Homo sapiens: one gene and its partner. The protein of the gene in region 1 interacts with the protein of each later gene in a pairwise test. Each region holds a gene or a part of one and is shown on either strand. Other genes may lie near its edges.

Region 1 (3,940 bases):
TCGTTTTATAAAATGCACAGCCAAGCAAGCTCTTCCCTATGGCAAACTTGTACACATAGTACACATAATTGTTTCTAACCTGTGGCTCAGAACTTTAAATGGGCTTTTGGTAACTTGGTAACTAGCATCTAGTTTATTTTCTTTCTTTTTTTTTTTGAGATGGTGTCTCACTCTGTCGCCCAGGCTGGAGTGCAGTGGCGTGATCTCCACTCACTGCAAGCTCTGCCTCCTGGGTTCACGCCATTCTCCTGCCTCAGCCTCCAGGGTAGCTGGGACTACAGGCGCCTGCCACCACGCCCAGCTAATTTTTTGTATTTTTAGTAGAGACAGGGTTTCACCGTGTTAGCCAGGGTGGTCTCGAACTCCTGACCTCGTGATCCACCTGGCTTGGCCTCTCTCTCAAAGTGCTGGGATTACAGGCGTGAGCCACCGCGCCCGGCTGCATCTAGTTTATTTTCATCTGGCACGGCAGGCTGTTGAGGTTTTACATCTTGAGCAAGAATAACAGCCACCATCCAATGGGCACATACTCTGAGGTAGGCACTATGCTGCTTGCTGTTCATTTGCTCTGTCTCATTTAATCCTCACCCAACAACCCATTGAAGGCCATATTATTAACCCAGTTATTTTGTTTGTTTGTTTGTTTGTTTTTGTTCTGAGACAGCCTTACTCTGTCACCCAGGCTGGAGTGCAATGGCGCGATCTCAGCTCACTGCAACCTCCGCCTCCCAGGTTCAAGCGATTCTCCTGCCTCAACCTCCCGCATAGTTGGGACTACAGGCGTGTGCCACCACACCCGGCTATTTTTTTATATTTTTAGTAGAGACGGGATTTCACCATGTTTGCCAGGCTGGTCTTGAACTGTTGAACTCGTGATCTGCCCGCCTCGGCCTCCCAAAGTGCTGGGATTACAGGTGTGAGCCACTGCGCCTGGCCTTTTCCCAGTTTTATAGGAAACTTTGGCTCAGAGGTGTTAAATCACCTGTCCAAGATCACAGAGCCAGTGAGTAGAAGATCTGGGAGTTGAACCAACACAGACTCCAGGCACCACATTTGTAACCCGTGTGCTAAATTAGATGCAGGTACAAGGAGGTCAGACACTTTAGCTGATTGGCTAAAGAATCTGGTTGATGCTACCAACCTAATTTGTGTGCATATGAGGGAGGCCTGTGGCTCAACACACACATTCTTTGGAGAGAGGATCATCTACAAGATTAATGAATTCAAGTAATTATTCATTCCATTTCCATCTTTCCCATCACTGCTTTGTTCCTGCTCTGTCCCCTATACTTGTCACCATGCTGGCATGAAGGACATTTCCAAGAAATCCTTGTTGGTTGAATGAGTCATAGAGAAGAAAAGAAAAGTGAAAGGAAGAAGGACCAGGGAGGGAAAGGGGATGGGTGGAAGGAAGGAAAGCGCTAAAGGGGCAAGAGTGAAAGAAGAAACAGGAAGAGGCTAGGAGATGGATGGGTGGAGGAGCGACCTCCCCAGCCTCTCCTCCACAGACTGCCTCAAATGTACCCGTGAGAATCCCCAGGTTTCCCAGTATCCTCCTCCCCCAATAAAATATCCTGCCTTCAGCCTTCACTTCAGGAGCTTCTCCCAAAGAGCTAAGGGCCGGCTGAAGCCCACCCCTACCCCTGCCTGACCCCTTGCCCTGCACACCCTTAAGTGGGCTCTGGGCTCTGCCCTATTCTCAGAGCCTTCCTCAGCTTCCTGGCCTGGCCTCAGAGCTCAGTGCTACCTTCCTGCCCCACTTCCTCTTCCTGCCTCCAAGTTCCCTGGAGATAAGGCCATCCAGGCATTGACCCCTAGCCAGGCCACATCCATCACACCTCTGTCAGTTTCTCCAAGGCAAAATCTTAAAGCACCAAGCCTACTTCCTGCCCAGTCCATTTTCCCAGGAGCCCTAGGGAAAGGGAGAAACTGGCACCAGCTGTTCCTGACATCTTTGCCTTGGAGATGGCAAGTGAGGACAAAGGCCAGGATCTGCAGCAGGAGTGGGGATGACTCAACTCAGGAATGTGTCACTAGGTAGAGGTTAGCAGGGAGTCAGGCCTGTGCCATACACTGATAACTTCAGTGGAACTTTCAGAGTAAACATCTCCCTTTCTCTTTCTCTAGGGGAGGAGTTCGCCCTCCAACACCCTGCCATGGGGCTGGAATGGCCTCTGCCACCCCATCTGCTCAAGTTTCCAACTCCTGAGCCAGGCTTGGCTCCTCACAGCTGCGGAAAGGGCTGACGAGGTCGTTACATTTCCTACCACTTCTTAGCAGTGGGTTCTGAGTGCCAGGCGGGTCTCTGCCACTGTGGCTCCTTTAACCTCGCAAGGACCCAACAAGGCAGGTATTACTGACCCCACTTCACAGACGCGGAAAAGGAGGCTCAGGGAGGTTAAGTGACTTGTCCCGGGTCACAGAGCTGGGATCCCAGCCCGGAGTCCGACTCCAAAGTCGGTGCTCTTAACCGCTTTGCTTCAGGAGAATGGGGAGCCCGAGTCCCGCTCGCTCTGCGCGGTGCAGCCAGGACGGGGCTCACGCATTTCTCTCCCATGCGGCGCGCAGGGAGTGGAGGGTCCGCCCCGTCCTGCTCCAGCAGTGGTCACCGCCTCAGGTCTGGCCCTCGTGGGCCCCAGGGGAGGCCCCAGCCCGCGGACTTTGGACTCCTCTCTCCCACCCTCGCCACTCGCCCTCTGCCCGTCGCAGGGCTGGCCGGCCCCGCCTGGGCCCTCACCATCGCTGCTGCCGCCGCCGCCTCGCCCGCTCCCGGCTTCTCTGCCTGCGGAGCGGCCGCAGTGCCAGCGGCCCCGGAGGAAGAGCAGGGGCGGGGCGGGGCGGGCCGCCGAGCGAGGGCGGGGGGCGCGCCTTCCGCGAGTGGCGACAGAAACCAAGTCAAATCGAAAGCGATGGGCCACAGCGACCTGGGTCCGTAGAGTCGGACCCTCCCGGGCCCCAGGAGCCTGAATTCGGATGACACCTCTGCCTGGTGAACGGGCACACCTCGGGGCCGGATCTGTGGAATGGGCACAGTGGAGTGAGCCCTGGAGTCTTCTAGCTCGAGTTCAGCTGAAAAGGCATCATTCATTCACTCAACAAACACCCTATGAGTGCCACGGTCAGGCACCATACTAGGTCCTGGAGACGCCATGAACAAGCCAGGCAGGGTCTTTATCACCCTGGTGAGTGCATCTCACCCAGAACCAAAAACAGGCACCCAAAAAGTTTTGAAACTAAAGACAAGTGGTGGTTGCACAACATTCTGAATACATGTCACTGATCTGTACACTTTAAAATAACAAACTGTACATTGTGTGACTTTCACCTCTATTCAAAAAGAAAGCAGCCCCACATGGGCAAAGTACTAGCTCTAGCCTTTCTGTATGTCTTTCCTCACCATGAGGGCAAGTGCAGCTCTGTGCTGTCATGCACCCGCCATGCACTTGCTCCTCAGTCAGAGGATGGGGGAGGCTGGTGTATCTACTACCACTTCAGAGCCTTCCTGAGCCGAATCTACCCATCCTGTCCTCTCACTGCTACAGAGAAACCACCAGCTACCTGTTCTCCACTACTCCAAGCTGCCTCGGACATCTTAAAATAAGGTCCCTCGTTTTTTTTTTTTTGTTTGTTTGTTTTTTTTTTTTGAGAGAGACAGGGTCTCACTATGTTGACCAGGCTGGTCTCGAACTCCTGGCCTCAAGCAGTTCTTCTGCCTCAGGTTTCCAAAGTGTTGGGATTACAGGTGTGAGCCACTGGGCCTGGTCCCTCAAGTGAGGCCTCTCTTGACCAACAGAATTGAAAGTTTCCCTCTCTGGGGCTGAGCCTCTGTGAATACAGAAGTCCCAGACCAAGAGGGTTTCACAGACACTCACCCCCACCTTGGACAGCCTGGGTCCCAAGGCAGAAGCTTCACTTCAGTTCCTTACACCTTGAATCCAGG
Region 2 (2,713 bases), on another chromosome or scaffold:
CCCCACATTCCCTCTTATGTCCTCATCCCCATGACACTAAACTGGGAGTGCATGTGTGCTTGGAGGGTGGTGGGAGGCACTGCTATGGTGCTATGAGAGGTTCATTCCCCTCTGGAGAAGGCGTGGGAAGGTCAGGCCACATGGAGTTCCACAAAGAAGGTTTGTGGCTTAGGAGCTTGAAACTATAACCAGAGTGACTGAACAAGGGTTACTGGCCACTCAAGACTGGCTTGATTTGTAATTTGGGGGCACAAAGCTAAAAGACTCTACCCTAAATAGTGAGATGTGTTATTAACAATCTGTGCTTCAACTCAAACAGAAAACCAAGTCCAAGGTCATTTCTGTGTAATTCGCTCCATAAGCAAATCAACCCCTGTTCTGATGATTTTGAGCCCATCCTTGTCTCTTTTCAGGCACATGCTTGACCATGGAAAACCCCTCAAGTGAGCAATGTATGAACCTCTAGGTGAGCCCCGTTTTAAGAAAACCCTGATGCCGACTTGCAAACTTAAACAGTTTAATGACAGTATGATTATGAATATTACAAAGGGAAACACATTTGTTTATAATATGATTTGAGTGTTGATAAAGATCAGTTTTCATCTGACACTTCCAGAAATATTTCTGTAATGTAAAGGAAAGCACATTGGCATTTTCAGTGAATTTAGGTTCCTAACCCCACGTCTGGAGAGCATTTTCCTATGACTCAAGAATAAAACTTTATAGAACGTTAACATTTTCCTGCCTCTTCTTGGGTAACCCTTCTGTCCTTTACTTAAATTACTTGTTGTCATGCTGATTTCATCAGATTATAGGAGAGAGAGAATAATCAACACTTCTGAGGTGGAAAGGACTTTCAAATCCTTCCCTGTCATGAAACTGATTAAGAAATGGAGGTGGAGAGTGGGGAAAGACTTGCTCAACCTGGTAGGGGCTCATTAGCAGCAGAGCTGGGGCAGAACCAACCCTCTTGCCTTCCGGGCTAATGCACAGTTCTTGGTATTGTGTTTTGCCATATTAAATGACCGAGTTGTGTGATGACCATGTCACTGACCTCTATCCCTTTCTTGGTGACTTCCCCTTTTTTTTTTTTTTGAGACAGAGTCTCACTCCGTTGCCCAGGCTGGAGTGCAGTGGCGTGATCTTGGCTCACTGCAAGCTCCACCTCCCGGGTTCACGCCATTCTCCTGCCTCAGCCTCCCAAGTAGCTGGGACTACAGGTGCCCGCCACCATGCCTGGCTAATTTTTTGTATTTTTAGTAGAGATGGGGTCTCACCATGTTCGCCAGGATGGTCTCGATCTCCTGACCTCGTGATCCACCCGCCTCGGCCTCCCAAAGTGCTGGGATTACAGGCGTGAGCCACCGTGCCCGGCCGGTGACTTCTCTTTAAGGATGAGGCTTATTTCGCAGAAGAGGGCAAGTTCCCCACAAAGGGAGCTCTTATGGGAAAGCTAAGGGTATAAAGTCTAAACTAAACATATCTTTGATAAGTGTTGTGCATCTTAGAAAAGAGAGGTTCTGGAATGGTGACTACATACACGCTTCTTTGTGTTTGGGGAGAGAGTCACAGAACAGACCAAAGGGAAGGCTAAGTGGTCTCTTATCCTGGGGATCTGGACGGCGTGCTGAAGCCTGAATTTACACTGATGTGTTTTAGACAGGGAAACTTAGGAGACATCGTAGGCCTGATACTTTGTTATGATTGATGCCCTTCTGTTTCTCTCCTGGGACAGGTAGTAGATGCGGTTGGCCTCTGGGTAGGTGACTTTGCTGAGCGGGAGCTTGTAGATGGCGGGGTTATTGGTCGTCAGGAGCAGGAAGGTGAGAGCTGAGAGACAGAAGGGCCAAGTGCAGGGCGGCAATCCAAACTGGAGAGAAAGAACACAGATAAGCCTTGGTCACATCAGGTGCCTGTGCATTTTAATCAGCCCTTATCAATCACCTACAGCCCTGGGGACATGAGGGACTGCTTTGAGGGCATTGATACTTCATTGATGACCAATATAAATAAAATCATGCCAGTGCTATTCATCTGCATTGCAACAGGTGAATGCACAGTTTTCAAAATGCAGCCACTGGGAACCCTAATAGTTGGGCTAATATGCCCTTATGTAGAAGTCATCAGAACATAATATGCCTTTTGTAGAGGCTGTGTTTTGTCAGAAGCTATGTTTCTGGCCAGGTTAGACTTCTAACTCTAGGAACTATGGTCATCCTGTGTCTTCTCCCATCAGCCCCTGTTGGAGAAGTGTCTTTGGCAGCCATTTGGTAGCTCAAGATGTTTTCTGTTTGGTCATAGCTGATTGGACTAGAGATAGGCACCCAACTCAAACACTGCTTCCTATAGGCAGGTGAAAGTGCCCGCTGCCAACAGAATCCCTCTCTTGAATAGTTGAACTAAGAGGCACAGAGACTGTGTCTACAGGGTTCTGGAACTGAAAAAACTGGGGAACAAACCAGGGATGGGTGGCCATTGGGGGATGTGTGCAGTAGAAGTAACCCGTCAGAGAGACACAGGGAAAGTGAGCAGAGAGATGGAGAGAGGCAAAGATGTGTCATCATTGTCCTATGGAGCTGGAGACAGAGCACAGCTGCCTTTCTTCTCAAGGGCTCTCCAATCTCCAGCTCTTTTTCTCTTGATGTTGACCTGTTTTTATTTCTTGAGATGCTCTAAGGCTTTTTAGTACTCTTCTCCACTCTTCATTTGAGAT

Evidence for each region.
Region 2: the proteins of VAMP5 (region 1) and SLC14A2 interact in binary tests that used the Homo sapiens proteins (3 or more experiments, as listed by UniProt).

The regions. Positions count from the first base shown.
Region 1 is NC_000002.12:85,583,291-85,587,230, reverse strand, and holds the start of VAMP5 (vesicle-associated membrane protein 5), read right to left. Parts: upstream 2,801-3,940; 5' UTR 2,741-2,800; coding exon 2,738-2,740; intron 1-2,737. UniProt on the Homo sapiens protein: May participate in trafficking events that are associated with myogenesis, such as myoblast fusion and/or GLUT4 trafficking.
Region 2 is NC_000018.10:45,681,476-45,684,188, reverse strand, and holds the end of SLC14A2 (urea transporter 2), read right to left. Parts: intron 1,871-2,713; coding exon 1,670-1,870; 3' UTR 501-1,669; downstream 1-500.